Linked DNA regions of Homo sapiens: region 1 is linked to region 2. Evidence: fine-mapped expression QTL. A gene starts in region 2. The other region holds a variant in brackets. All regions are shown on one strand. Distances are between the middles of the regions. Region 1 overlaps RNF157 (ring finger protein 157). Region 2 holds the start of RNF157 (ring finger protein 157).

The links. PIP is the estimated chance that this variant, and not a neighbour inherited with it, causes the effect.
Region 1: its variant is the best candidate, but not a certain one, in a credible set for the expression of RNF157 in whole blood (INTERVAL, PIP 0.70).

The regions. Positions count from the first base shown.
Region 1 is chr17:76,161,882-76,177,216 of GRCh38, reverse strand. It overlaps RNF157 (ring finger protein 157), which reads left to right. Exons shown (of 19, transcript NM_052916.3): 3 at 3,427-3,515; 4 at 9,420-9,566; 5 at 10,091-10,208; 6 at 10,690-10,756; 7 at 11,672-11,715; 8 at 12,422-12,469; 9 at 14,594-14,665; 10 at 15,215-15,335. Among named protein-coding and RNA genes, the nearest start is that of FOXJ1, 28 kb to the right of the region's middle. RefSeq lists an enhancer at 9,205-10,404. The variant G/A (reference allele first, on the strand shown) is at 8,109.
Region 2 is chr17:76,232,450-76,247,784 of GRCh38, reverse strand. It overlaps RNF157 (ring finger protein 157), which reads left to right and starts at 7,292. Exons shown (of 19, transcript NM_052916.3): 1 at 7,292-7,632. The coding sequence starts at 7,545. It overlaps LOC105371896 (a long non-coding RNA gene), which reads left to right. Exons shown (of 6, transcript XR_007065913.1): 6 at 3,291-6,923. RefSeq lists silencers at 7,118-7,187, 7,208-7,347 and an enhancer at 7,652-8,324.

The DNA.
Region 1 (15,335 bases), 71 kb after region 2:
TCTGTGGAGCATGCAGCCCCTGCAGCACCCCCTTGCAGCCTGGGGCAGGGGCTCCAGGTCCTCACTGGGCCGGGGCCAGGGCCGGGGCCAGTGTCCAGGGCAGGGTGACATCGCCATGAGCTCTGCCTGTTCCCCCGGTGCTTCACGGGCAGTCTGGGACAGAGTGGATCCTGGGCCTGGGCCTGGGCCAGGCCATCTGCCCAGGAGTGTCAGGCTCAGTGGTCACCCCAATGTGGGGCAGACCTGGGGGCGCAGCCCCAGACGGGCTGCGCAGAACCTCCTCCCGAGGCACAGGAACCTGGCACCCTCGGCAGGGTGGGCACAGTGGCTGCGCCAATGGCCAGGTGCCCGAAGCGGAAGCTGCTCCCACTTCCTGCCCGGGGCCCCTGAAGCATGGCCCCAGCTCCGCGCCCAGGCCTGGCCCTGGCGCTCCATGAGCAAGCGGGACACTGGCCAAGGCCCAGCTCCGCCTCGGGGCTCCTCTTTGCCCTACCGCGCTGCTCTTCTGCCACGCTGCTCCTCTGCTGGTGGGTAACCCGGCCAGCCCCATGGGGTGGCCTCCAGGGCGGCAAGCTGTGGAGGGGCTGTCTGTCTGCTCCCTGCGACCCCCCTGCAGCAGCCGTTGTGATGGCAGCGGCTGCTCTGGACAGCCCACCACTGTCATCAATAGTAAGCACTCAATAAATGGTAATTTTTGAAAGGAAGATAACTCACTAAGAAATTTCGAGAGTAATAGTAGGCAAAATCGATTTACAGAAGAATGGGAGACAACTCTAAGAGCAGAAAAAAAATTTTTTTTAATTTGCCTCTGATCCTACTGTCCCCTCCATCTTCTCTGTTATCTCTGAATTTGCAAATTTCATTTATCCTTTAGGATCCCAGATCAACTACCAACTCCTCCATGAAGCCTTCAGATTACCTCAGCCAGAAATGATCACTTCCTTTATTTTTGCCTTTTGTGGCAAAAAAATATCCATATATTTAATCTCTTTGATATTACAATTACTATGTCAGCTGCCTTATAATGCAGCTTCCTGAAAGAGCAGGGCCTTATCTTCTTGGTTTTCAATCTCTCCTTACTCCTGGCATGGAGTGTTGCATGTAGACTCTGATTGCATGAATGCAAGGCCAGCAAGGCACAAACTTTGGTGGGTAGCAGCCCACGAACAAGCTTCTCCTGAACAGATTTGCCGTTGTTGTCTTGTGCGTGTATGTGTGTGTACAGGGAGAGCCTAAAGTATAGGGGTGGATTTATAAACAATTGAACTCATTGATACCTTTCCTTAAGAGCCAAATAGCTTATGTTTCATTGCCACAGTTATCATCAAATATATTCAAAATGGAGGATAAAGAGTGCCAGGATTTTTTTTTCTTTCTTTTTATTTTTCTCTCTTTTGCGGCAGGGAGTGGCTATGGAGGAGAAAGAGTAAAGAATAAGGGAAAAGACGCATCTTTTTTTTGAAATGCAGGTAGGAGTTATGGATAACGCCCAAGTACCTGTACAAATGAAAATGATTAACTTTGCTACTCCAGAAAAAAATTTTAATCCCAAAGTCATTTATTTTGGCTTTAGAATAGACTAGCGTTTGTGTCGGATTTTCCTGCCTAATTACTTTTTGCTTAAGCTTATTTAAAAATTGTTTTAAATTCCTTTAGTATGACAGCCTAGGAAAGTTGGGGGAGGAGAAACAGGCCACAGATGGGATCTGAACTAGAATTTCAGTTTTACCATGTCAAGGCCTCCTGATGCACTGCTTGCAGGAGGGCAAAGTTGGAGTCAGCTTTGTGGAAAACTGTTTGGCAAAATAATTTTTAAAGTCTTAAAAATATGCTTACTCTTTGATCCTGTAATTCCACTTCTAGGAATTTGTCCTTAGGAAATAATCAAACAAGCATGCAGAAATATAGGGACAAGGATATTCACCACAACATTTATAGCTGCGAAAAAAAGTAAAACCAACATAAAATATTGAATAATATGGAATTGATTAAAGTATGCTATTATCTGCAATGTTATCAAAATTATGGACTTTAAAAATGTTTACCACATCTTTTTAGGTGAAAAAGAAACTGCAAAATAGTATGTTCAGTGTGAAACAGCACATAGATATAGAGGTGGACAGGATGGATGGATAGACGGACGGATGGAGATACGTATTCCATAATGTTAATTTTGGTATTGCCGAGTAGTAAAATTAGGGATAGTTTTGTACTTTTTTGTGTTTTTCAAGTTTTCTGCTTAAACATATATTACTTTGTAATTAGAAAAAACTATCATTTTTAAAAGAATGTATGGTTAATATATCAATGAAAAAGTAAATTACTGCATCATGCCCACAAAGTGAGTAATCTGAATGAAGATAATTTCTATTGAATGTAAGAGTCACATTCATACCTGTGAATTATAAGCAATTATACTGCGTACATTAAGTCAGATGCACCTTAACTATGGTTTAACTATATTGTTTCCCAAGTAAAATAACCATATTCAATAAAAACCTGTGAGGGCACAATTTGATTATAACTTGGGTGTCCTGTTTTGTGATACCACACTATGGAGGTAGACTCTTCTTGAGCCAAGAGAACCACAGTTTTGCAAAGCTGCAGAGACCAGTAGGTTTTTTGGGAATTATATGTTAAAACATTTTGATTGCCCAAATAACATTTTAAAAATACCGGGAACATTTGAAATCATTCTTGATCCTCAGAAGGCAATTCCCAGTGAAATTTTTGGCTATTTCCCCTTTCTTTATCTCATCATTATCAACAACTCAGAACTTCAAATCCAAAGGTCTAAACGGGCAAAGGGGGAAGAAGCGGATGGTAAATGATGAAGACAACCATAAACCTTTGGTGACCCCAAAATAACTCTTGGCTCACATGTTAAAGAGCTCTGCTTTATATGATCAGCTGCAGGGGAAGTTTGTTCTTTACTGTTTGCAAACTTCAGCTCTGTACACATGATGGGGCCCTCTTTTATTTGCGGTCCCTAAACTCCTGGGATACCGCATGGCCTCACCGAAGGAAAGGGCTTGCAGGTCTGGTTCCCTGTCGTCTGAGGTCAGATGGAAAAGCCTTTTGTGATTAACTCGGCCACAGTGTGTCCTTTGGTATTTGGAACTTCAGCGGTTTTTTTTTTTATTATTAATTCTCCAGGTTTTGAACACTGACCGAAATAAGCTTCATATAATGGAAAAAGAAGATAAATCTGGCTCTTTGGGCCCCAAATTGCATCCCAGTTTTCCCGCTAGCTGTGACCTTGAGCAGGTTGACTCAGTATGTCGGAGTTTCAGTTTCCTCACTTAATTAGGAGAGTTGTGCCTTCCTGCCTCACCTCTTAGGGCTATTCTTGGCAAACTGTAAAGCGAGGGACAGCTGTGGGTCTTTTTAAACACACCACCTTCTCCTGCTTTGTTTCTGACACAGTTTCCTTACGCCGCCCCACCTCCCCAAGAACCCGTGAAGACTCTGAGAAGCCTGGTCAATATCCGAAAGGACACACTGAGGCTCGTCAAGTAAGTTCCCAGAGGCTGGGGCCAGGTCCCAGGCACCTTCCTTTGGGGAGGCTGGGGGCTGGGGGACAGACTTCCCAAGGAACTCATACAGCAGTTTCCGGCAGCCCCAGAGCTTGCTTCTCTGGGCCTCAGACAGGAGTGCGGGCGCTACTTTCTGCTGAGATCAGGCCGTCCACACCCATGTTGTTCAGCACTGGATGCAATCGTCTGTGTTTGTGAAAAACTTTCGCTTGCCTAGAAATGCTTAGTATCCTTATTTTATGGATATTTTTTAAAAGGGAAGAAGAATTATTAAGGGAAAATGGGAATTTTTGCAGCTACTCCAACAAGCCAATGTAAAAATGGGAAATTTGAACTTAGAATATCAAATCCTTTATTTTATTGCTATATTTTCTTTTTCTTTTCTTTTTTTTTTTGAGACGGAGTCTCGCTCTGTCACCCAGGCTGGAGTGCAGTGGCGCAATCTCGGCTCACTGCACGCTCCATCTCCAGGGTTCACGCCATTCTCCTGCCTCAGCCTCCCGAGTAGCTGGGACTACAGGCGCCCGCCACCACGTCCGGCTAATTTTTTGTATTTTTAATAGAGACGGGGTTTCACCATGTTAGCCAGGATGGTCTCGATCTCCTGACCTCGTGATCCACCTGCCTTGGCCTCCCAAAGTGCTGGGATTACAGGCGTGAGCCACCGCGCCCAGCCTTCTTTTTCTTTTTTATTCCCTATATCATGTGTCTGTTCTCTAAGGAACTCATAGTGCACTGGGTTGGTTGCTTAATCCTCATCATCAATGTTAATTATCGTCATTTGCCTTCTTGGTGCCATCCTTGAGACAGTGTAATTTTTAGTCTGATACATTCCCACTGCCCGCCACCCCTAGATGATATGTCTACCAAGGCTGTCTGATTCTCTGGTGAAAAAATTTGGTTAGGGCAAATCAAGGTCCCAGATTTTTCTGAATAGGCAAGGAAGATGACTCAGAGACCATCTCATGCTTGTATAGAACAGCCTTATTAGCATTACAATGTTTCTGTCTGATATATATATATATATATTTGAGACAGAGTCTCGCCTTTTTTTTTTTTTTTTTTTTTTTTTTGAGATGGAGTTTTGCTCTTGTTGCCCAGGCTGGAGTGCAATGGCACGATCTCGGCTCACTGCGATCTCGGCTCACTGCAACCTCCACCTCCCAGGTTCAAGGGATTCTTCTGCCTTATCCTCCTAAGTAGCTGTGATTACAGGCATGCATCACCACGCCCGGTTAATTTTGTGTTTTTAGTAGAGACAGAGTTTCTCCATGTTGGTCAGGCTGGTCTTGAACTCCCAACCTCAGGTGATCTGCCCGTCTCAGCCTCCCAAAGTGCTGGGATTACAGGCGTGAGCCACCGCACCTGGCCCAGAGTCTCACTTTGTCACCCAGGCTGCAGTACAGTGGCACGATCTCAGCTCACTGCAGCCTTAACTTCCCGGGCTCAAGCAGTCCTCCCAGCCCTAAGTAACCACTAATCTATTTTCTGTTTCTCTCTCTTAATTTTTTATATTTTATTTGTCCCTGAAGTTTCTGCTGGTTCCCCAGCTATGCTTCTCTCCACCCCAGGGTCAACTCTGGGGAGGAGAGATTCAAGGAGGTACCTGTCTGCTGCAGAACAGTCCCCCGACCTGACCCAGGGGAGTTCATCCAGCAGCAGAGCAGACTAACGAGGCCTCTGGGGCCTGCCATTGCCAGCTACTCTGTCCACTTGGTTTCTCTCATCACATATGGCACATTCACACATTTGATGGAGACCATTCAAGGGCCTGAGCTGCTGTGAGGTCATAGCCTCTGCCGTGGCAGCCTGGCTGCAGCTCTAGAATAGGATGAAGCAGCTGTCATGCGCTAGAAGAACCAGACTTGGAAGCAGCAGAGCAGTTTGCCTCCCAGGTCCACAGATGCTTGCTTGAATGAGTGTCTGAGCTTCAGGTTCTTTTATCTGTAAAATGGTGATAATCAACTTTACCTTTCATGGTGGTTGTCAAAATTAAGGTAACAGAAGGGAAAACACCTGGTGTTCAATAAATGTTAACTTGAAGGGTGTTCTTTGTTTTGTTTTTCTGTGATTATGGGAATAAATTCTGATTCTCGGATTTCCAGGTAAAGATGGAGGATTGAACACCTACTTTTGCTTCCTCTGAAAACCCCATTAAGTAATTATAAACATGTATTTAAAAGGCATAAATCTGGCCGGGCATGATGGCTCATGCATGTAATCCCAGCACTTTGGGAGACCAAGGCGGGCGGATCACCGAGGTCAGGAGTTCAAGACCAGCCTGGCCAACATGGTAAAAACCCGTCTCTACTAAAAATACAAAAATTAGCCAGACATGGTGGCACGCATCTGTAATCCTAGCTGCTCCGGAGGCTGAAGCAGGAGAATTGCTTGAACCCAGGAGACAGAGGTTGCAGTGAGCCGAGATTGTACCACTGCACTCCACTCTGGGTGACAGAGTGAGACTCCAACTAAAAAATAAAAAATAAGGCCCGGTGCAGTGGCTCATGCCTGTAATCCCAGCACTTTGGGAGGCCAAGGCGGGCGGATCACGAGGTCAGGAGATCGAGACCATCCTGGCTAACACAGTGAAACCCCGTCTCCACTAAAAATACAAAAAATTAGCCGGGCATGGTGGCAGGCACCTGTAATCCCAGCTATTTGGGAGGCTGAGGCAGGAGAATGATGTGAACCCGGGAGACAGAGGTTGCAGTGAGGCGAGATTGTGCCACTGCACTTCAGCCTGGGCGACAGAGTGAGACTCCATCTCAATAAAATAAATAAATAAAAAATTTTAAAAATTTCTTTAAAAAGGCATAAATCTGTAAATATTTGGAGAATGGGAAGAGAGCAACAGCAACAACATTTTAGAAGCTGGAAACACATAGTGAACGTTAAATGACTTAGTAGACCCAGGAAATCAGAATCCTGAACTAGCAGAAAGAAAAGCTGAGAATCACCCAATTTATACTGTGATATTATCCCCCAAAGGGTTCAGAAATTAGCAGTGCCAGGTCCCTCTAGAAGTTGAGGTGGGAGGCTAAAATGAAGAGGATTGGTAGAAAGTCTGCCTTCAAGGTAGGCAGATCCTCTCCCTTGTACCACACAGCCAGAACTACATTCCTACACCTTGGCCAAAGGCAGGCAGATGACTCTCCCTGGAAAGGTCAAAACAGAGAATCTCTGGACAAGAGAGACCCAGGCACAGCTAATGGCCAGTACTAAAAACAGGCTAACCAGCCTGGGCAATATGGTAAAGCCCTGTCTCTACAAGAAATACAAAAATTAGCCAAGCATGGTAGTGCACACCTGTAGTCCCAGCTACTTGGGAGGCTGAAGTGGGAGGATCACCTGGGCCTAGGGAGGTCAAGGCTGCAATGAGTCACGATCACAGCACTGCACTCCAGCCTGGGCAAGAGTGAGACCCTGTCTCAAAACAAAACAGCAGGTGAGTGGATCCTGGCATACTGGATGTTGAGCCCTCCAGCTGCCTCTCCATTCTGCCCCTAGAATGCTGGCAGCCAGGCCTTTGTCAAGAGAGAGGAAAACTGTTTTCTGGAAATTGGACCTGCCTGGATAGGAAAACCTAAGAGACTAGAGTTAGAGGTTCCTCAACAGATCCAGGTCAGCCCACAGTGAAGCCCAGGATCCCCAAGTCCTGCTGTGCACTCAGAGCTCTAATCAGCAGTTTAAATATCTTAAATACAAGCAGACAGCCACAGATTCTTAGATGTGTAAGGAATGCCTATAATAGGAAAGACAGTAGCAAAACAAACCAACATTTTAAAACAACCTAACTAGGCCAGGTGCGGTGGCTCACGCCTATAATCCCAGCACTTTGGGAAGGTGAGGCGGGTGGATCACTTGAGGTCAGGAGTTCGAGACCAGCCTGGCCAACATGGAGAAACCCCATCTCTACAAAAATACAAAAAAATTAGCTGGGCCTGGTGGCACACGCCTATAATCCCAGCTACTTGGGAGGCTGAGACGGGAGAATCACTTGAATCCAGGAGGCAGAGGTTGCAATGAGCCAAGATCGTGCCATTGCACTCCAGCCTGGGTGACAGATCAAGACTTCATCTCAAAAAAAAAAAAAAAAAACCTAACTAGGCCGGGTGTGGTGGCTCACACCTCTAATCCCAGACCTTTGGGAGGCCAAAACAGGAGGATCACTTAAGCCCAGGAGTTTGAGACCAGCCTGGGCAACATAGTGAGACCCCATCTCTATATAAAATAATAATAAAGTAAAAAAAATCTAATTGGAAACAAAAGCTATGCAGGAAGAAGAAAACTTCATTAATAGTCTCAAAGACATGAGAGAAGTTATCTTTTTCTTTCATGGACACAATGACACAAAGTGTTTATGAAACCAAAAAAATAGCTTTTAGAAATTAAAAACAGGGAGCAGAAATGAAAATTTCAATAGAATGATAGGAAGAAAACTTGAAATATTCTAGAAAGTAGAGCAAAAATCCAGAGAGAAGGAAAATAGAAGAAGAAAGACGCAAGTAATAGAGCACCCATTTAGAAGGTCTGACATCCAACTAACGGGTTCTACAGAGAACAGAGAAT[G/A]TAAAAGGAAGGAAATCATCAGTGACATAGAATTTAAGAAAACTTCTCAGAACCAGAGGGTACAAGTTTCTAAATGGAAAGGACCACCAAGTGCCCACACAGTGGCTGAGAAAGAGGACCGTCTGTAAGCTTTCAGAAGAAGAAGGATCAACAGTTGGAACGACTTCAGACTTCTTGGGAGCAACGCTGGGAGGTGAAAAATAAGGCAGTGAAAAGGCTTTCAGTGTCTTTTAGAAATTATTTATAATCTAGAATACTTTGCTCAGCCAAACTTTCAGTGAAGTGTGAATGTTGAATAATAGCTCTCAAAAGTTTATTTCCCAACACACCCTTTTTCAGGAAGCTGGCAGGACACGTGCTCCACCGATATGAAAGAATAACCCAAGACAGAGGAAGACTTGAGGTGCAGGAAACATGAGCTTCTACAGGAGGACAGAGGCAAAAGGGACCCACCAGGATGTTGGAGGGGGAGAGAGATTCCAGGGTGGCGACTGGGAGCCAGGTGCAGAGGGCCAAGTACAGATGGGAGCAAGTCCAAGGGACCTCCTCAATAAGATGAAATGAATAGACCGCTTGGTGCATCTGAACGTCTTGAGAGATTTAGACAGCCCCAGAGAGCTTGGGTTGGAATTTGTGATGAGTACATAGGAAACTACGCAACTGGAAGAAAAAAAAAAAAATAGGATGAGCACTAAGAAAAAGTTATGCAGGAAAAGAAAAATAATCATAGATTATAAGTTTGTGTAATCACAGTAATACAGACACAAATGTACTGGACTATTATAATAAAATCATGATGCAGCTACACTGGGGGGATGGCGGAGTTCCTACATGGAGCACAGTGAGGAAAGAGAAAGAAATCCTTGTTTCCATAGTAGGAAACCCATAGATAGCGCCTGAAACTGAAAAATCAAGAAGTAGTAACCCAAGTATATTTTTTAGAAACGTGGGTAAATGCCAAAATGATCACTAAAAGGGGTGTCCTCTGAAGACGAGGAAAGGGAAGAAGTAAGGCCTGCTGTTTTTTGCCTTGAGGAAACTATTTAAACTATGTGATTAATAACTTTTATTAAAATAAAAACAAAAGTGCCAAATGCACAATGGTGTAGTGGTAGCACTATGAGATACCAGAAGTAACCTGAATGCCCAGCAACATGGGTCATGAAGCACTCTGTGATCATTCAGAATGAAGAGGTAGACCTATGCTTATGATCATTCAGAGAAGCCCACAATATATTGCTAATTTTTTTAAAGGTAAATTTTAAAATATTGATATGCTACTCTGCAAATGCTGAGTCTCTGGTTTTCTAGATGTGCTGAGGAAGTGAAGAGCCCTGGAGAAGAGGCCAGTAAAGCTAAAGTCCACTACAATGTTGAGTTCACCTTTGACACAGATGCTCGGGTAGCCATCACCATCTATTACCAGGCCACGGAAGAGTTCCAGAATGGTATTGCCAGGTAAGATCAGGAGACCAGGAGAGCCACTTCCTTCCCAGATTATTACCAGGCCACGGAAGAGTTCCAGAATGGTATTACCAGGTAAGATCAGGAGACCAGGCGAGCCACTTCCTTCCCAGATAGGGAGAGTCCATGTCTTATCCACTCAGCAAGGGCGGAAAACATTCTTTTTCTGCAGCCAGATGAGATCTGGTTCCTGAATTTAGACTTTCTTCTACAAAGCCCTACCCTTTACCTTTTCCCTTCAAATTGTGCCATCTTGGTATAGTGACAAATGGTGGTATAGTCCTTCAGGTCCTTAACATGCTGTTAAAAATCTAGTAAGCTACCTTTCTTTGGATGTGTGGGTTGAATAGAAAAGTTTAACGTTGCCAAGCAAGAGCAAAGGAAATGGATTATAAAGGACCCTTTCTTCTCTTCGCTAGACCCTGTTGATAATTGAGAACAGGCATGAGCAGAGGAAGTTGTCAGACCCATCTGTGCCGGATACTGACTTTTGCTTTGCCTCCCACTTGTATCAATAGCTACATTCCCAAAGACAACAGCCTCCAGTCGGAGACTGTGCAGTACAAGCGAGGAGTGTGTCAGCAGTTCTGCCTGCCCTCCCACACCGTGGATCCCTCCGAGTGGGCCGAAGAGGAGGTGAGCTGCCTCTGGGGAGGGTTTCCCACATCCACTCAGAAGGGCCTAGGGGCTACTTAGGACTCGGTCTGACAGCAAAGGGGCTGCTCGGATGCTTGAAGGCCATGCTTACCTTTCAGCCTTGTGACTTCATCATGTCCTTTTAAAGCTCTGCTTATTTTGCATCAAGGATATACCTAACTTTGTTAATTTTTCCATTCCCTAGGAATGGAAATAGCCCATTAGCCTAGGATACTTTGAGAAAGCCATGCTCAAAGAAAAAAAAAATCTATAGGTTAGAGGTTCTTATTTACATCTATGACATTTTTAAAAAGCAGCTGATGGCCCTCAGTTAACAAACTTGGGTAATTAACAAGGCTAAAGAATGAGGAGCAGAGATGAGATTAATGCTTCTTGACAGTATCGCCCTTTCTGAGATTAGCTGTGCCATGTAAATGTGTTAAGTCCTCTTTTTTTTTCCTTTCCTTTTCTTTCCCTTCAGCTTGGCTTTGATTTAGACCGAGAAGTTTACCCTCTAGTGGTACATGCCGTGGTGGATGAAGGAGACGGTAGGGGCGATTTCTGTCCTCTTTGGCTGTGCACACTGCTCTTTTGTGGCATATTCCTGGCAGCAGCTGTGGCCCCAGAACAACATGCCTTCTTTGTGGGTGTTTGTGACTGTGAGTCAGGCAGTCTCTGCATCCTCTCACATCTGTGACTCCAAGCTCCTGGGCTGATGTGAAAAGTGTGGGTTTGGCTGGGCACAGTGGCTCACACGTATAATCCCAGCAGTTTGGGAGGCCGAGGTGGGTGGATCACCTGAGGTCAGGAGTTCGAGACCAGCCTAGGCAACATGGGGAAACCCTGTCTCTACTAAAAATACAAAAATCAGCTGGGTATGGCAGTGTGCACCTCTAATCTCAACTACTTGGGAGGCTGAGGCAGCAGAATCGTTTGAACCTGGGAGGCGGAGGTTGCAGTGAGCCGAGATTGTGCCACTGCACTCCAGCCTGGGTGACAGAGTGAGGCTCAGTCTCAAAAAAATGTGGTTTAGCTGGGCGTAGTGGCTCATCCCTGTAATCCTAGCACTTTGGGAGGCTGAGGCGGGCAGATCACCTGAAGTCAAGAGTTTGAGACCAGCCTGACCAACATAGTGAAACCCCGTCTCTACTAAAAATACAGAAAAGTAACCGGGCATGGTGGCTCATGCGTATAATCCCAGATACTTGGGAGGCTGAGGCAGGAGAATTGCTGGAACCGGGAGGCGGAGGCCACAGTGAGCCAAGATCATGCCACCGCACTCCAGCCCAGGCAACAGAGCCAGACTCTGTCTCAAAAAAAAAAAAGTATGGGTTATATAACGTGCCCCTTCTAGAGACAGACTGGCACATTTGGTTTGCCAGATTGCAGGGAACTGGAGAAAGTCATGGGCATCAAGATGTGCTGTTTGGGCTTCTTCACTCACGTGCCTTTGTTTCTTTCAGAGTATTTTGGCCATTGCCATGTACTGCTGGGTACTTTTGAGAAGGTGAGTGACTTTAGAGGGCCTCGCTTTATTGCCTTTAGCCCTTTCTTTCGTGTGAGACACATGTAACCCGTTTGCTGGGTGCCTGAGCTCAGCAGAATGGGTCTGGCTTTAGAGGCTATAATGGTGAAAGAGGTTGCAGTGAGCTGAGATGGCACCACCGCACTCCAGCCTGGGCGATAGAGTGAGGCTCTGTCTCAAAAAAAATAAATAAATAAAAGAAAGAAAGGCTAGACTGGATAATTATAAGACCTTTAAAGAATTAGGATTGTATAATTCTGCTCTGAGAGTGTCCAGGAACATGTGTACAGTAGTCCCCCCTTATCCTCAGGAGATAAGTTCCAAGACCCCCAGTGGATGCCTGAAACTGCAGATCGTACAGAACCCTCATATACACTGTGGTTTTTCCCATACTACATCCACACCTATGATAAAGTTTAATTCATAAGTTAGGCACAGTAAGAGACTAAGAATAATAGTAAACTAAAACAATTATAACTATAAGGTAATAGAAGTCTGAATGTGATCTTTCTCTCTCAAAATATTGTATGTAATATTTTCAGACAGTGGTTGATGGCGGGTAATTGAAACCATGGAAAATGAAACTGCAGATCAGGGAGGGCGACTGTAACTGGGAGATGTAACAGAAGAATACCTGGTGCTTTATTACCCTCCCTTCCTTGTCATAACTTTCATATTTTCATTCCAGCACACAGATGGAACTTTCTGTGTCAAGCCCCTCAAACAGAAACAAGTAGTAAGTATTTGAAGACCACAGACTGTTAGTATTAGGGTCCTTCCTTCCTTTTATTCTTTCCTTTCTTCTTCTCTCTCCCTCTTTTTTTATTTTTGTTTTACTTTTTGCTCTCTCCTTTTCCTCTTTTTTTTTTTTTAATCAAAGAAGAAAAGAAAAAAAGGGAGTGCTTTTGAATGTTACAAGCTATTACAAACGACTTGGGTGGCCTGAAAGGAATGCTGATTTTTGAGGTCTTCATTGTTCCAGAAGTGTTGGTGTTGAGGGAGCCTTTATCTGAGCAAAGGACTTGAGAAATGAAAGAACAAGATTTATTTCCCAACATTGGGTTTAGGGAGAACTCTTTTTATTTAAAATGCCAGAGTGAGAAACATTTCAAGCGAAAGGATAAAGCATTAGGGTCCAATTTAGTGTAATTAGAGTCATTGGCTTAATTTATCCATTCCTTTTCTAAAATTCAAAGTTAGCCATCCATTCTCCCTCTTCCAGAATGATCAGCACCTTGTGCATATGTCTGCTAGAAAGTCCCAGCCCCTACCATGTGCCAGCACTTTTCTTTCCACTCTTGTAGAGGTAGGAGGAGACATCACTGGGAGGAGAGAGAGTGGTGCCAGTGGCATTGGCAAGGGAGGGTGGGTGAGGGGCAGGTCATCTCACGGAGGGTGTAGAGCAGCTGGGTAGGAGGCAGGGTTGGGCTTCCTCGAGATGCAAAGAAAAGCCTTCCTGTAGATGGGTGATAGATACCTGAAATTCTACACTGTTCGTTCTTTTAGGTTAATTACTCGCCTCTCTTTTAATGAGGTCAATAATAAGAATATCTTAGGATAAATTAGTTTTCCAATATAATCACTGCATGAAAACAAGTTTTAAGAGCAGCAGAGGAGGAAACAGATCCTGGGCTCAGGCCCAGGGCACTACCTGGGCAGGCCAGGCCTTGGTGAGTTGCCTCATGGGGGAAGGCCTGGTTCTCCAGGAGGCCTGGATGGGATGGAAAGGCTCGTGTAGCTAGAGGAAGATGGTTTGTCCATTTTCCTCTTGTTAGATTGGCATTAGCAACAGACTGTTAAAACGGAGAGTGGGATATAAAATCAGCGACAGGCTATGTCTTAGGGGAAGGGATGGCTAAGAAACAGAGGTGAGGCAGAAGAGTGTGCTCCTAAAAGTAAATGGGGCAGGGCCAACTTAGACACTGACATGGCCCAGGTTAATGGGAGTGGGATTGGGCCTTGGTAGTTGGGGTTTTAAGAAACAGGGCTGGCCGGGCTTGATGGCTCATCTCTGTTATCCTAGCAGTTCGGGAGCCTGAGGCAGGTGGATCACTTGAGGTCAGGAGTTTGAGACCAGCCTGGTCAACATGGTGAAACCCCGTCTCTACCACAAAATACAAAAATTAGCCAGGCATGGTGGTGCACACCCTGTAATCGCAGCTACTCAGGAGGCTGAGACAGGAGAATCGCTTGAACCCAGGAGGTGGAGGTTGCAGCGAGCCAAGATGGTGCCACTGCACTCCAGCCTGGATGACAGAGCAAGACCCTATCTCAAAAAAAAAAAAAAAAAAAAGGAAACAGGGCCAAGAGGTGTAATTTTGCTGCATGTTGGGGATGGGGTGGCTTCATGGTGTGGGGTACACACCATTAGCCTCTCCCTCAAGGTCTTGCTATCGCCCTTTGCATCCATATTTTCCCTTCCCATCTTTTTCCTTGCCAACTTCTTCTTCTTTTTCTTTCTCTTTTCCATTCCTTTATTTGTATAATGTCTGAACTCAAATTGGATTATATAGCAAATGCCTAGATTTTAATGCATGCCCTTCCATCCTTTTTCTAGTCTGTGCCTTCTTAATTGTCCATAATAGTATGCTGCAGTGCAAGTATTATTATTGTATTTGTGAAATTTTATGTTCCCTGTTGTATATAATGATGGGTGAATTAAATATTTGATTTTCTTTCTTCTCTCAAAGAGAAAACATAAGTAAATAAAAGCATCTTTTACTTATCCAGGCCTTTGATTTTTTTTCTCATTATGAATCGGTAGTCCTTGGTTACCAAAAGAGGTAAGATTGGAGGGAGTTCCCACTCTTGTCTCTCAGTAGAGACAGCCTGTCCTTGAACCTTTCTGTTTGCTGTTCAGGTAGACGGGGTCAGCTACCTCCTTCAGGAGATCTATGGAATTGAAAACAAGTACAACACACAAGATTCTAAGGTAAGTTTTACCCAAAATTCTGAATGTACTCTTTCCAGGAGGCCAAGTGAGAAATCGTAAGCCAGCGTCCAGAAATTTAGCGTGCCAAACTCTGAAATCAGTTAGGTCTTAGAAGGGTATTTTCTTGTTCCTCATTTCAGATCATTACGCTTTTACCACTTTGGAAATGAGAAAAGTAGGCTGGTTTGGCTTTGTTCTGCCACAGAGCTCTGTCCAACTCGGTTTCCACCAGGGCCCTTTCTTTGCTCCTTTTCCTTTATCTGTGTGATCCCCTAAGTCCCTTCAGCTGAGATTTGAGAGGCCCAGCTCTGGGCCTTATAGGAGGAGCTCGAGTGGTTAGTCTCGTCCTCTCAATTTTAGATAAACACTTCCCAGAAGAAGTGAAGCTAAGTGTGTGGACGCACTGGGAAAATGACAAAGTCCAATGTCAATGCAGATTTTGTTCGTAATTATTACTTATCTTAGCTCTTCAGCCACGCTGCCTTGTCAGTAAAGTATGGGACAGGAAGGGCTTTGTGCCATTGGCTACATTTCTTTCTCCTTGGCCAGGTGGCTGAAGACGAAGTGAGTGATAACAGTGCCGAGTGTGTGGTGTGTCTCTCGGATGTCCGGGACACCTTGATTCTGCCCTGTCGCCACCTCTGCCTCTGTAACACCTGTGCAGACACGC
Region 2 (15,335 bases):
AGTTTAAGCCTGGCCTGGCCAACATGGTGAAACCCCGTCTCTACTAAAAATACAAAAAGTTAGCTGGGCGTGGTGGCGCATGCCTACAATCCTAGCTAGCTACTTGGGAGGCTGAGGCATGAGTATCTCTTGAATCAGGGAGGCGGAGGTTGCAGTGAACCAAGATCGTGCCACTTTACTCCAGCCTGGGCGACAGAATGAGACTCTGTCTCAACAACAACAACAACAAAAAATAAATATGTTTATTATATTTATTATATTTATATCTTTATAAACAAAGATATTTATTATATATTATTATTATAAAAAATAATAATAAAATAAAAGATAACAGGGCCAGGCGTGGTGGCTCACGCCTGTAATCCAAGCACATTGGGAGGCCGAGGCAGGTGGATCACTTGAGGTCAGGAGTTCAAGACCAGCCCCGCTAACATGGTGAAACCTCGTCTCTGCTAAAAATACAGAAATTAGCTGGGCATGGTGGCGTGCGCCTGTAGTCCCAGCTACTCAGGAGGCTGAGGCAGGAGAATCGCTTGAACCTGGGAGGTGGAGGTTGCAGTGAGCCGAGATCAGGCCAGTGCACTCTAGCCTGGGTGACAGAGAGACTCCATCTTAAAAAAAAAAAAAAAGATAACAGGATACGGCTAACAATGTAATAAATATATACCTCATGGTGCGTAAAAAAGACCTAAGGCTTCCAATAGCTTACTGTGAGAACCATAACAGTGAGTGGTATTTCTGTTTATTACTTTGTCAGGATCAACACACAGTCTTTGAAATACCCTAATAGGATAGTAGTTATCACATAAATAAACAAGCAATTTGCTCAGAAATAAATGTGTCATTGTAAACAAATTGCTTGTCTGTAGTGGACTTTGGCTGGCACTCAGACTTTAGCTGGACACACTATTAGCATGCATACGGCACTTTTAACCTACTTGCTAAGAATCTGATCTCCTAACCCTCAGTGGCCTCTCATTTCTCTTTTCTCAGCAGCCCTTTGGTTCCTGTGCCTGGGAGGAGTTAGGTGACTGGTTGATCAGTTCAGTTCTGCAGCCCTGACCTCAGCTCCAGTTTCAGAAGAGCAGAGGGAGGGTGCAGGGAGTCTCCAGCTGAGAGGAGCTCAGTGGTTTTCTGATTCTGACTTGAGCACAGTTACAGACAACTTTCCTGTGAGTGCAGTTGATTGCATGCTCACACTGATATTGCAACAGCTGAACACGTGTGTGCACTTGTGTTGAGCTTCAGAGCTCAACCTCAAGTCGGCTTGTCCTCTTATGACAGCTGTAGGAGATGGCTCACCAAGGAGAGACAGAGAGAGATAAAACCAGCATAGCACCAGCTTCCCATATCAAGACCCAGTGCACAGGGAGCCAGGGATCCCTGGGTTCTGAGCTATGGCTACCACTTGTATGGTCTTGGGCAAGCCCCTTACCCTGTAGAGGTTGCAGCTGCCTCATCTGTCAGGGGAGGGGCTGTACCTTTGAGATTCCTTCCAAATCTGACCATCTAGCCAGGACAGGCATTTTCAAGAAACCCTGTTTGTTATTTTCTTCTTTTGATCTAAGTAACCGCAGGTGAGTATTTGTTTTGTTAAAGAAAGGTTTGGGGCTGTCACCACGCTGCCGCTTCCACATTCTACCTTTTCTAGGTAGCAAGAGGCAGACGCTGGGCTTTGTGCCTATTTGGTCTGGTCTGTTTCTCCAAGAAGGGCAGCTGGAGTCGATGCTGGGCTGAAATGTTCTTTTTTTTCCTTTTTTCGAGACAGGGTCTTGCTCTGTCACCCAGGCTGGAGTGCAGTGGCGCCATCTCTGCTCACTGCAACCTCCACCTCCCGGGTTCAAGCAATTCTTTTGCCTCAGCCTCCTGAGTAGCTGGGATTACAGGCGCGCGCCATCACGCCTGGCTAATTTTTGTATTTGTAGTAGAGACAGGGTTTCACCATGTTGGGCAGGCTGGTCTTGAGCTACTGACCTCGTGATCCACCCGCGTCAGCCTCCCAGTGCTGGGATTGCAGGCATGAGCCACCGCGCCTGGCCTGCACAGCTAATTTTTAAATATTTTTTTTGTAGAGATAGGATCTCACTATGTTGCCCAGGCTGGTGCTGAACTCCTGGGCTCAGGCAATCCTCCCACCTCAGCCTCCCAAAGCACTGGGATTACAGGTGTGAGCTACCAGGCCTGCCCTGCCAAGCTGAAATGTTAGCCTCACACTTTTTTTTTTTTTTTTTTTGAGACGCAGTCTCCTTCTGTGGCCCCAGGCTGGAGTGCAGTGGCGCAATCTGGACTCGCTTCAACCTCCGCTTCACTGGTTCAAGCGATTCTCCTGCCTCAGCCTCCCGAGTAGCTGGGATTACAGGCGTGTGCCACCACGCCTGGCTAATTTTTGTATTTTTAGTAGAAACGGGGTTTCACCATGTTGGCCAGGATGGTCTCAAACTCCTGACCTCAGGTGATACATCTGCCTCGGCCTCCCAAAGTGCTGGGATTACAGGCGTGGGCCACTGCACCCAGCCCGCACATTCTTTTTACACCAACTTTAGGATGCAGAATGTGTAGTCCCAGGTGGAGTGAGCTCAAAGCCAAAAGAAGAGCAGGACCAACAAGGAAGAGAATGAAGGCAGAAGTGAACAGGTAGAACCAAGCTTACAAGGTCTGGTATTTGATAGAAACAACAAAAAATAGAACAGACTCTCCCAATTTCTTCAAACTAGTCTGTAAACATAAATAGAGTCTTGGGCCCCTCATTTCTCCAATGCCAGATGCCTGGGCAGCAGGGCTGGAACCAGAGTGAGGCAGGTGAGGCAATTGCATGACACTGAGAGTAAGAACTGTTCTTTTTTTTGAGATGGTGTCCTGCTCTGTTGCCAGGCTGGAGTGCAGTGGCCTGATATCAGCTCAGTGCAAACTCCGCCTCCCGGGTTCAAGCGATTCTCCTGGCTCAGCCTCCCGAGTAGCTGGGACTACAGGTGCGTGCCACCATGCCCAGCTAATTTTTGTATTTTTAGTAAAGATGGGGTTGGCCAGGATGGTCTCGATCTCTTGACCTCGTGATCCGCCCATCTTGGCCTCCCAAAGTGCTGGGATTACAGGTGTGAGCCACTGTGCGTGGCTGAGAATGAGAACTTAAAGTTGACATTCTGGGTGCCCCACTCACTTCGCCTTATCCCCAACACATTGGGCCGTGTAAACATCATCTTTCATTTTAGTCTTAACTTGAAAAATAGATTAATAGGCTACAAACTGGACTGGAGTCTGCATCCATTTGAACAACTCTTCTTTATTGGCAGCCCAGAGTGGAGGACGAAATTAACAATGAGGAATTCACACTCAGCAAAAAGCAAAATATGAAAGCCTGATTGCGGATTTCCTAATGGACAAGATTATTTTCCTCTACAGAGAGCCTTAGGTTGCCAGAGGAACCATCTGCAGGGCCCCAAAGCATTTAGGATCAGACTATTCTGTCGACGTTAGCCTAGCCCACTGATCTGGAGCAGGATGTGACATTCTCCGCTGGTGGTTTTGGCTTCAATCCACCGAAGCCACATGTCGAGGACTAAAAGAGGGATCGGGCCCATGTGTGGCTGATTGGGCCCTATCTTCTGGAGAGAGCTGGTACTCATTAAGAACAGCCAAGATTCTCATCTTCCTGTCCCAAAATCAGAGACCTTTCTTAGCTCTTTCAGGTCACCTGAGATACTGGTTTGCCTCCCAAACCCTGCTGCCTCAGGAATGCTGTGCTGCAGGGCTGTGTCTGTCAGTTTCCACCTGCAGGCTCCCTCACTCCTTCCTGCACTAAGCTAATCATTGCATGTGTTACAAGGGTGGAAATGGCACATCTGGGCTGAAACCAGGACAGCAACATGAACAAAATGAAAAGTCCAAAGGGACAAGCTCACCTAAAAATTACTTGTCCCCGTACTTCCCCCACCCTTCTCCTTTCTCCCTTAGACCCAAGTTGCAGAAGAAGAGCTTCAATGTGATAGAAATACCTGGCTTTGCCCCTTGCCTTCCAGGGATGTTTAGAGAAAACCGCTGAGACCCTTGGATGTTGTGTTGTCTGCTGGGATTCTCCCAAGGGCTGCATCCATAGTGTGGAAATGGATAGGGTGCTACAAGGCTATTTCCACAAAGCACGTGTGGTATTTGCATGTGATTTCCCTATGCACACTGTGCAACCCCTCCCCAGACCATTTTTCAAGTTAAAAACATTTTTATGGCTCTCTTGGTGCAGTCACTTCTGGATTTTTCCTCCTATCTGAGCTGCCTTCTCCCTCGGGCACTCTCCCTGGCCCAGATCTTTGGCGAGGGAGCCAAGTGGAGCCAGGGAAGAACCATAGAGGAATGCAGGACTCAGCCCCTCTAGAGTCGGCTGCTCCGAGGGTCTAGCTGCTTATCTCGCCTTTGCCCAGGGCACTGGCTGAGATTCTATTTCCAAAATTGTTCACACTAGGTGATTACACTGTAGACTGTGGGACTGTAGCTCAATTCACAAAAAGTCTCTTTGATCTAGAAGTTTCTAAACTGCCTTCTATCCGTTTCTCTTCTGTCTCTGGTCAACATTCTTTTAAAAATGAGTCTTGGCTGGGTGTGGTGGCTCACGCCTTTAATCCCACCACTTTGGGAGACCAAGGCGAGCGGATCACCTGTGGTCAGGAGTTGGAGACCAGCCTGGACAACATGGTGAAACTCCATCTCTACTAAAAATACAAAAGTTAGCCGGGCGTGGTGGCGGGCGCCTGTAGTCCCAGTTACTCAGGACGCTGAGGCAGGAGAATCACTTGAACCCGGAAGGTGGAGGTTGCAGTGAGCCGAGATCACACCATTGCACTCCAACCTAGGCAGCAGAGTGAGGCTCTGTCTCAAAAACAAAACAAAACAAAAGAGTCTTGATTCACTTATTGCATCTTTGCAATAACCATTGGAGACTGGGCTATTTTCAGAGGAGGAAACGGAGACCGTTTCTAAGGGCTTAAGTCAAAGTTACATAGCTGCTTAGGGGTTTGATTTGTCCAACTCAAAGTCTAGTGCTCTTTCTGTGCCTCATTCTCTTCGACTGTAAAATCGGGGTGTAAATAGCATGTATTTGATAGGGTTGTTGGGAGGGTTGAATGCTTTAATACGTGTGAAGTGTTTAAAACAGCCTGGCACATAGAGTGTTCCATAAATATCCACTAATTTTATTGTGCTATGCCTTGTTTTTCTTTACTATTCTAAGCATTGGACTCATGACTCCTTCGTGGGAGGAGGAACCAACTTCTAGGCTTGGGGAGTATTATTCAAGATGGAGAAGCTGGCTTCCCAGGGTCAGGCCAAGGTGGGACCAGAAGAGACACCCCATAAGCAACAGGACTGGGCTGCTTGACTAAGCCACATCCCTGCCTGGCCCTGGCTAAGCAGAAGAAACTCTCAGACATGGATAAACCCACAAAGGGAAGGGATGTCCCGTTTACAAAATGCCGAGGGCAGGAAGAACCAAGGCTTCTGAACAGAGCCGAGGAGCATAAGGCAACATTTTACTCTGTGATGTGTCGAAGGCCTTGTGTTTTGAGGTGGTTCTAGATTCTTATTTGCATTTTACCTTTACCCAGCAGTTACAAGGTAGGGCCTGTGTGTGCTGAAAGGAGTATGGAGGAGGACACCAGTTCCCTCCCACAGGGATGACTGAAAGCCCTGGAGTAGTTAGGACCAGGGACTCTGCCAGAGAGCTCTGGTGCTTGGGAGAAGCTGCCGGGGCAGGGACTTGCCCTGTAACCCAAGCCTTCGTTAGCAGCAGCCAATATAAATGACAGGGATGTGTTCCCACCATCCTGAGGACCCTGGAGGAAACCAAGGCACTTAGCATCAGGTCTGTTGGCTGCTGCTGAAAAGACGGCAATGAAAAATACGAAATGTGCCGGGCGCGGTGGCTCACGCCTGTAATCCCAGCGCTTTGGGGGGCGGAGGTCAGGAATTGGAGACCAGTCTGGCCAGCATGGTGAAACCCCATCTCTACTAAAAGTAGAAAAATTAGCCGGGTGTGGTGGCACATGCCCGTAGTCTCAGCTACTCGGGAGGCTGAGGCAGGAGAATCCCTTGAACCCAGGAGGCGGAGGTTGCAGTGAGCTGAGATCACGCCACTGCACTCCAGCCTGGGCGACAGAGGGAGACTCCGTCTCAAAACACAGAAAAACAAAAACAAAATATAACCAGGAAAGACCTAGACTCCGTAAAATAGCTTTACAAACCTAATCAAGGGAACCAGACACCCCAAACTGTACTTCGAACACTGTTGAAAAGTTGTGAAAGTCATGTTCTAGCAGTTGAAATGTTTGCTGATCAGTCCACTCTCTCAGGAAAAAAAACACCAGACCCACAAAGAAAATAGAAGGTTTAAAACACAAATGTCTGTAATTAAGCAATGGAATGACGTCTTCCGCCGGCCCAAGCTTCCCACTGTTGTGTGTGTTTTTATCAACAGGAGCTCCCGGTTCTGCCTGGCCCGGTTCGCTTTCGCCTGCGTTGACTCTCTTGGCACTCAGGCCTTTCCAAAGTTTCCGGGGTCCCGTTTCCACGATACAGACAGAGGCTGGATGTCTTGATCTTATCCTCAGTCGATGTTCTCCTAACTTTAGGGCTACAAGGAGCCTTAAACAGCATGTATAGAGTTGGGAGCGCTTTGAATAGACGCACGTGAGAGGGAGGCGGCATCTTCCTAGCCGGTCACCAGCATTAACACGGGGCAGGAGACATGCGAATGCACCGTGGGACCCCTCTCCCTACCCCCCTGCATGAGATTTCCGAAGACCTCCGCCGGCCGACGCTGAGGGGCGGGGTTGGGAAGGCTTCCTCCAGGCGCGGGAGCAGCGGAGCGGGGACCGCCCGCTTTGGGACGCCCAGGACAATGGCGAGCGAGCTCCCGGCCAGTCCTCGCGGACCGCGGGAGGGGGCGGCTCCCTGCGCGGTAATCCGAGCCGGGATAAACAGGCGCGGAGGGGCGACGCGTCCCGGCCGGGTGCAGCGCTCGTCTCCTGGGGTCCCAGCTCCGGCCGGTCCCGCCCCGCCCCGCCGCGGGCACCCGGCCGCGCCCCCGTCCCCGTCGCGAGTCCCCGCCCACGCCCACGCCCCCGCCGCGAGGCCCTGGGCCGCGTCCACGCGCGCCGAGTCCAGCCGCGGCTCCCCGCGCGAGGCACGCGCCGCCGGCTCCTGCTGCAGTCCCGCGCTCATTGGCTGCTCCGGCGCGGGCGCTCCCGCCCCGCCTCGCCATTGGCTGGGGCCGCCGCGGTCCCCGCGCGGAGCGGCCGCTGACATCACGCGGCCTGAGGCGGCGGCGGCGCCCCCGGCCCAGACCCGCAGCCCCCTTGGCAGAGGCGCCGCCGCGGTGCCCGGCGGAGGATGGTGCGCGGCGCGCCGGGGGCTCCCCGCCGCCAGAGCCGCAGCGCCGCAGCGGAGCCGGCCGCGGCGGGCAGTCGGCCCCCGCACCGGGCGCGGGGCGGGCGGCCGCGGTGAAGCGCGGAGGGCGGCGCGGGCACCGGGGCCGGGCCGGGGCTGCAGCCGCAGCGGCCATGGGGGCCCTGACGAGCCGGCAGCACGCGGGCGTGGAGGAGGTGGACATCCCGTCTAATTCCGTGTACCGCTACCCGCCCAAGTCCGGTGAGGGCGGGCGGGCGCCGCAGCCGCGAGGAGGGAGAGGGGCAGGGGCAGGGGTCTGGGTCGGGACGGCCTGAGGGGGCCCCGCGGGTCTTCGGGGACTCAGTGGTTGCGGACGCTCCGAAACGGTCTTCGAGCGCGGGAGGTCTTCGAGAAGGCCGAGGTCTCCCCCGCCCCGGGCGAATTAGCCCAAGGGGCGTCCTGCCGGGTCTAGCAGGGTCACCGAGGGCACCGAGCCCCTCCACGGGAGGACGGGAGCGGCCTCCATTGTAATCGGCCCCGTGACGGGGACGCGTGCCCGCAGGGACCGAGGCTCCTGGGGAGCGGGGCTGCGGCGTCGTAGGCGAGGTCGGCGCCCCGCACGGACCCGGCCGGCCCGGCCCAAAGCCTACCTGCCTCGCGGGGTCCGAGGGCCGCGAGGGAGGCGACCTCGGCATCCAAACAGGCACTTGCGCCAGGTGCTATCCCTGCGCTGCCGTCTCCTGGCCTCTGGAAAGGTTAGAATTAGGTTTCTCCTGGAAAAGCTTCCATTGCCTGCTGAAGGATGGAAGCCAAACAGGCATTTGCAGTGCTGGTGCTTTTGCAGAGGCTGTCAGAAGCCGGGGGGTGGGGGGGGTGGTGGTGGTGGAAAGTAACAGAAATGTTTGGGAATCTGAGTATCAGAGTTACTCGGATTGCCCCTTTGCTAGCGTAGTGGCAAGCCTGGGTTTTGGAGTGGGACCAGCTCTGGGACAGGGCAGAGGTATTGGAAACGTATAGAAGTATGTTTGTTATTAGAATCATCCCTTCACTTAAATGTCTCTAGCCTCTGGATTGTGGTATCAGCATTGGAGGTGGAGGAGGATTTTGACAGCAAAGCAGAGAATCACAAGGTAGTTCAGTTATGTGAGCACCGGCCAGTATGAATTGCATGACCTAGCCGGTGTTTACTTTTAATTGCAAGTAGTTTTATTTTAATTAATTACTTTTAATTTTATTCTCAAGACTTCTGAGGATGAATGGCTGCGACATTCTGTCTGCTTAGGACCCGATGGAGATTTTGGTGATTTCGGAATGAGGTGTCAGAATTGGAGCAGAGCCTCGTCTCTTTTTGGTAGAATAGAGACATACTGAGATGAGCTGGTTTCTCAGCAGTGTGTCCAGTGTCTGCCAGGTGAAAGCAGGGGCCAGACGATGAACCTGCCCGCATCCCTGCAGAGTGTCTGCCAGAGCTGTGTTTCTCACTGCTTTTGTACCAAAGAATGAATCCTTGCAAAGATGAATATGGTGAAGAATTGTTTTAGAAAGGTCTAAGATAAAGCTGTGGGTCGTTAGTATTTTAATAAAGCTCTGACTGATTATGACTACATAAAATCAACGCTAACCAAGGCATAGATTTTGTTTTTTAATAGACAAAAATATTCTTAGGGCGGCATGAGGAAAACTTTTTAAAATAGACAAAAATATGCAGCAGTATTTGTGGGCTCTGTTTTTCTTAAACCACATGGCTTTTATTGATCAAAATATGGAGCATACTTTGCTGAGCTTGGAATTTTCAATAGTGTTTGCTGCCTCAGGAAAGTATTCACCGCTCTTTCATATGTGGGACTTAACATAGGTAAACCTCTGGAAGGCTGTTCCCCAAAGCATATTTGTACAAGTATGAATCTTGGGTGATGATAATAAAAAGACAATAGACCAAACCAAAACTTTTGTTAATTAGCACACTCAATAAATAATCCTCTCCTCTCTACCAGTTTTAAAAGTTTAACTGTAAAACTGTAATTCATGTTAAATCAGAAGTTATACATGAGAGAAGTCTTTATAGCAAGTGGACCACATTATTTCTGTTGAAGCTAAAACATAGAAAATAGAATCAGAACATCCTGTCTCTGTCAGCAAACCTTTGTGTATTTGAAACCTTATGTGAGCTTGCATATATGCTCTAGACGGAGGCATCGCCTTTCTTCTGATCTTTGAATTGACCTGGCTCTTTATGGGATTACAGTATTAGTCCTGAAAGGAACCGTTGACAGAGTTTGGCCATGACCACCATGCCTAGCTAATGTTTAATTTTTTTTTTTTTTTTTTGAGTCATCGTCTCTCTCTGTCACGCCCAGGCTGGAATGAAGTGGTGCAATATTGGCTTACTGCAACCTCTGCCTCTAGGGTTCAAGCAATTCTCCCGCCTCAGTCTCCCAAGTAGCTGGGATTACAGGTGTTTGCCACCACACCCGGCTAATTGTTTGTATTTTTAGTGGAGATGGGGTTTCACCATATTGGCCAGGCAAGTCTTGAACTCCTGACCTCTCAGGTGATCCGCCTGCCTCGGCCTCCCAAAGTGCTGGGATTACGGGTGTGAGCTACCACGCCCAGGCAAGTTTTTTGTAGAGACACTCTCTCACTATGTTGCCCAGGCTGGTCTTGAACTCGTGGTCTCAAGCAATCCTCCCGCCTTGGCCTCCCATTCATTTCACTGATAAGAAAATGGAGACCCAGAGAAATGAATTGGTATGGCCAGGGTCTCTCAGCCAGTTAGTGTTCTTCCTACTATACTGTCTGCCTCCACCTCTCAAGGAATTGGGTTTTGAACTTGTACTCAAAAAACAAGACTTAAAACAATCATTCCATGATTATGGAATGAAGGCTATTTCGTGTCATAATTGAAGTCCCTATAGAGGAATCAACCTGGGTTGATTTTGAGAAGTCTCCTTATCCTGAGTACTAACAGTGGAACAAAGCAAGTGGCAGAGTCAGCTTTCTCCAGATGACATACCTTGTAGTTTGAGTGTTAAGTTGAGACCACTATCTGGCTCGCTGGAAAGCGGCTAGACCTGCACTGCCGGTGGAACAGTTGTTTCGGAAAGAAGCACCATCATCTGTCCTTGTAATGACGGTCACAGTGTCCAGCTGAAATTGCTTTTTTCTTAGTATATTTAATGGAACTTCTTAGTTTTGTATGCACATTGAAACAAACATTTAAATCCTATCAAGAATGGCAGATTTCAAGTTGAGACTTGGGTTTGTAGCTTTTTTCTATCCTTAAATAGAGGTAGATAGAAATAAATAGCCTAAATTATTTAGAATTATTTATTTTTGAATAGGTAATATAGTCACACGGTTCAAACTTTAAAAGAATGAAAACGTGTACAGTGAAAGCCTTGTTCTCACCGCTGTTGTCCATCCACCTGGTTCTCCTTCCTCCCTCTAAACCTCCCATCCCATGTAACCACTTTTGGTTTCTTTGGAATTCTTTTAGAGTTTCTTGTGTAAATGCAAGCATAGCATGCTATTAGACTGTTCTACACCTTGCTCTGTTTGCTTTCAGAGATATTGGAGATCTTTTTATATTGTCTCATATTTGATAAGTTTCTTTGTGCTTTTTAACAACTATATAGTATTCCTCTGCATGCATATGCCATCTTTTTTTTTACATAGTCTCCTGTTGATAAACATCTGTGAGTTGTTTTTTCAGTATCTTACTATTGCAAACAGTGCAACAATGAATAATGTTATGCATTAGGTGATTTTTAGATTTATTAATAATTGTGTGAATATTAATCATTTAAGTAATAGAAAGTATGGTGGGAGTTTCTGTATAGCATTTCTACATTAGCATAGAAAGCAATTTAGAGCACGGTTCTACTGTATTTGGATGTACTTTTGTAATTTTTGAGTTAGAAGTCATACATGCTTCTCTAAGATCTTTGCATCTTTAAAAGCCCAAGATCATTTGTTTAGCAAAGAAAGGTATGGCTTTGCGGAGATGGTTGCTTTTATGAAGCTCATCTTTTGACAGAAGTATCCACGTTGATAAAAGTCCACATTGATAAAAGCCTGTTTTCTCTATCCAGGAAGAAATAGGCATAATATAAAGACAGTTTAATTTATATAAAGCAGTACCTCATAAATCTAGTTTGTTTCCCTCCACATACTTGGGCAAGTTGGAAAATAGGAATAATTTGTTTTGCTGAAGTCTTTAAGAAGTAAACCTACTACAGAAATTCAGAATGGTAATCAGAGTCCTGACCAGCTAGCTTGGTTAAACCCGGGTTTTTGCTTTTAAGGCCTTCAACTGACTAGAGGCCCACCCACATAATCAAGGATAATCTCCTTTACTTAAAGTCAACTGATTGTAGATTTTAAAAAATTAAATAATTTATTTTTAGAGACAGGGTCTCACTCTGGCATCCAGGCTGGAGTGCAGTGGTGTTATCAAAGCTCACTGTAACCTCAAAGTCCTGGGCTCAAGCGATCTTCCTGCCTCAGCCTCCTCAGTAGCTGGGATTACAGGCACATACCACCATGCCTGGCTAATGTTTAAAGTTTTTGTAGAGACAGTATCTCACTGTGTTGCCCAGGCTGGTCTTGAACTCCTGGTCTCAAGCAGTCCTCCCACCTCGGGGTCCCAAAGCAGTGGGATTACAGAAGTGATCTACCGTACCCAGCCATAGATGTATCACATCTGTCTACATCATCATTCTCCAAATTTTTGTTATTTTAGAGTACACATATTCTTGTCAAATGGGTCTTTCCTATTGCAAGAACAGTTTTTAAAGGCATGGATAATAAGTCTTTGTCGAATAACTATAAAAGTTTTAATGTAAGTTTCTCCTAGCTTTAGGAGTATCAATTTAATATTAGATTTGAAACCATACACTTAAAAATATGCAATTTACGGCTGGGCGCAGTGGCTCACGCCTGTAATCCCAGCACTTTGGGAGGCCGAGGCGGGCAGATCACGAGGTCAGGAGATCAAGACCATCCTGGCTAACATGGTGAAACCCCGTCTCTACTAAAAATACAAAAAAATTAGCCAGGCATGGTGACAGAAGCCTGTAGTCCCAACTACTCGGGAGGCTGAGGCAGGAGAATGATGTGAACCCAGGAGGCGGAGCTTGCAGTGAGCCGAGATCGTGCCACTGCACTCCAGCCTGGGCGACAGAGCGAGACTCCGTCTCAAAAAAAAAAAAAAAAGTAACCTACTACAAAATAAGGAATTATTTGGTTGGCACAGTTTGACACTTTAAAATATCCAAAACAATTTTGAAAAAGGAACAAAGTTGGAGGACTATCGCTACCCTATTTTAAAAGTTACTATGCATATAATTACTATAATGCCACAGTAATCAAGATAGTGTGGTATTGGCACAATGAAGAGCATATAGATCAGTGGAACAGAGTTATGAACCAGAAATCCTTACATTTATTTTCGGTTGATTTTGACAAAAGTACCGAGACAATTGAATGGGGAAAGGATAGTGGTTTCAACAAATGATGCTGGGATGAGCAAAAAAGAAAATGAACTCAGACCTATTCTTTACATCACCAAAATTAACTCAAAATGGATTATAGAGTTAAAAGAGAGAACTCAGAGAATGGGAGAAATTTTTATAAATCATAGGTATGACAAGAATTTGTATCTAGAATATATAAGGAACTCATATGCTCAATAATAAAAAGACAACCCAATTAAAAATGGTCACAGCACTTGAATAGACATTTCTCCAAAAAAGATATACAGTGGACAATAAGCACTTGAAGAGATGATCATTATTAACTTTCAAGGAAATACAAATCAAAACTACAATTAGATACCACTTCACACCCACTAGGATGGCTATAATTTTAAAAAATGATAATGACGAGTACTGGTAAGGATATGGAGAGAGCGAAACCCTCATACCCTGCCGGTGTGAATGTAAAATGGGGCAGCCACTTTGGAAAACGGTTTGACAGTTTCTCAGATGGCTAGTTACTAGATGACTCAGCAGTTCTACTCCTAGGTATACGCTCAAGAAAAATGAAGAAAATACATTCACATAAAAACTTGCACATGAATTACTCATAATAGCTAAAATGTGGAAATAACCCAAATGTTCATCAACCGATGAATAGAACTACTGATAAATAAAATATGGTAAGTCTGCACAATAGAATATTATTTGGCAATAAAAAGGAATGAAGATTTGATATGTGCTACAACCTGGATGAACCTTGAAAATGTTATACTCAGTGAAATAAGCCAGGTGCAAAAGGCCATCTATTGAATAATCTCATTTATAAGAAATGCCCAGAAGAGGCAAATCCACAGAGACAGAAAGTAGATTAGTGGCAGTGGCGCAGTGGCTGTGCCTGCGGCTGCCAGAGGCTGAGGAGAGGGAGAAATGAGCTGTGACTGCTAATGGATTTCTTTTTGGGATAATGGCAGTGTTCTAAAATTAGATAGTGGTGAATAGTTGTATAACACGGTCAATATACTAAAAACCATTGGATTGTACACACTAAATAGGTGAATTCTGTGGTATATAAATTGTATCTCCACAAAGCTATTTTCAAAATGGGGCTGGGTATGGTGACTCATGCCTGTAATCCCAGCACTTTGGGAGGCCAAGGCTGAAGGATGGCTTAAGCCCAGGAGTTCAAGAGCAGCCTGGGCAACAGAGTGAGACCCTGTCTCTACAAAAATTGTTTTTAAAAATTACCTGGGCATGGTGGCATGATATCAGCTACTCGGCAGGTTGAGGCAGAAGGATTGCTTTGCCTAGGATTTCAAGGCTGCAGTGAGCTATGATTGTGCCACTGCGCTTCAGCCTGGGTGACAGATTGAGACCCTGTCACTAATAAAAAAATAAAAATGGATCATAGACATAAATGCAAAAACAATGAAACCCCTAAAAGAAGACATAGGAGAAAAATGTTATTTGATTTGGATTGGGCGAAGAGTTCTTAGATGTGACACCAAAAGCAAAATCCATACAAGTAAAAAATAATAATAAATTGGATTTCTTCGAAATTAAAAACATTACCACCTCAAAAGACAGTAAAAAGTTGAAAAGACAAGCCACTTTCTGAAAGAAAATATTTGCAAATCACATAAAGGATGTGTATCAATATTAAGAACTCTTACAACTCAATATTATGGAGACAAACCATCCAATTAAAAAATGTGCAAGAGGCCAGGCACGGTGGCTCACGCCTGTAATCCCAGCACTTTGGGAGGCTGAGGCAGGTGGGTCATGAGGTCAGGAGATCGAGACCATCCTGGCTAACATGGTGAAACCCTGTCTCTGCTAAAAATACAAAAAATTAGCTGGGCGTGGTGGCCGGTACCTGTAGTCACAGCTACTCAGGAGGCTGAGACAGGAGAATCACTTGAACCCAGGAGGCAGAGGTTGCAGTGAGCGGAGACTGGGCCACTGCACTCCATCCTGGGTGACAGAGCAAGACTGTGTCTCAAAAAAAAAAAATATGCGAGATTTCAATAGATACTTCACTGAAAAAGATGTAGGAATGGCTGATGAACACATGGAAAGATACTCAACATCAGCAGCCATTAGGGAAATATAATTAAAACTGCAATGAGATACCATTTCACACCTATTAGAATTAGGATAACTAAAATAGAAAAGGCAGACAGTGTCAAATGTTGAGAATGCAGAGGAATTGGAATCTTTATGAAGTGTTATGGGAAATGTAAAATAGTACAGCCACTTTGGAAAGTTGGACAGTGTCTTAAACAGTGGAACATAAATTTGCCTTATGATTCAGCAGTTCCACTCCTATGAATCTGTCCAAAAAAATGAAAACATATGTACACTCAAAGACATGGATGCAGATGTTCATAGCGGCATTGCTCATAATAGCCAAGAAACTGGAAATAATCCAAGTGTACATCAGCTGGTGAATGGATAAACAAAATCCATTGTTTATTTCATGGTACAGTC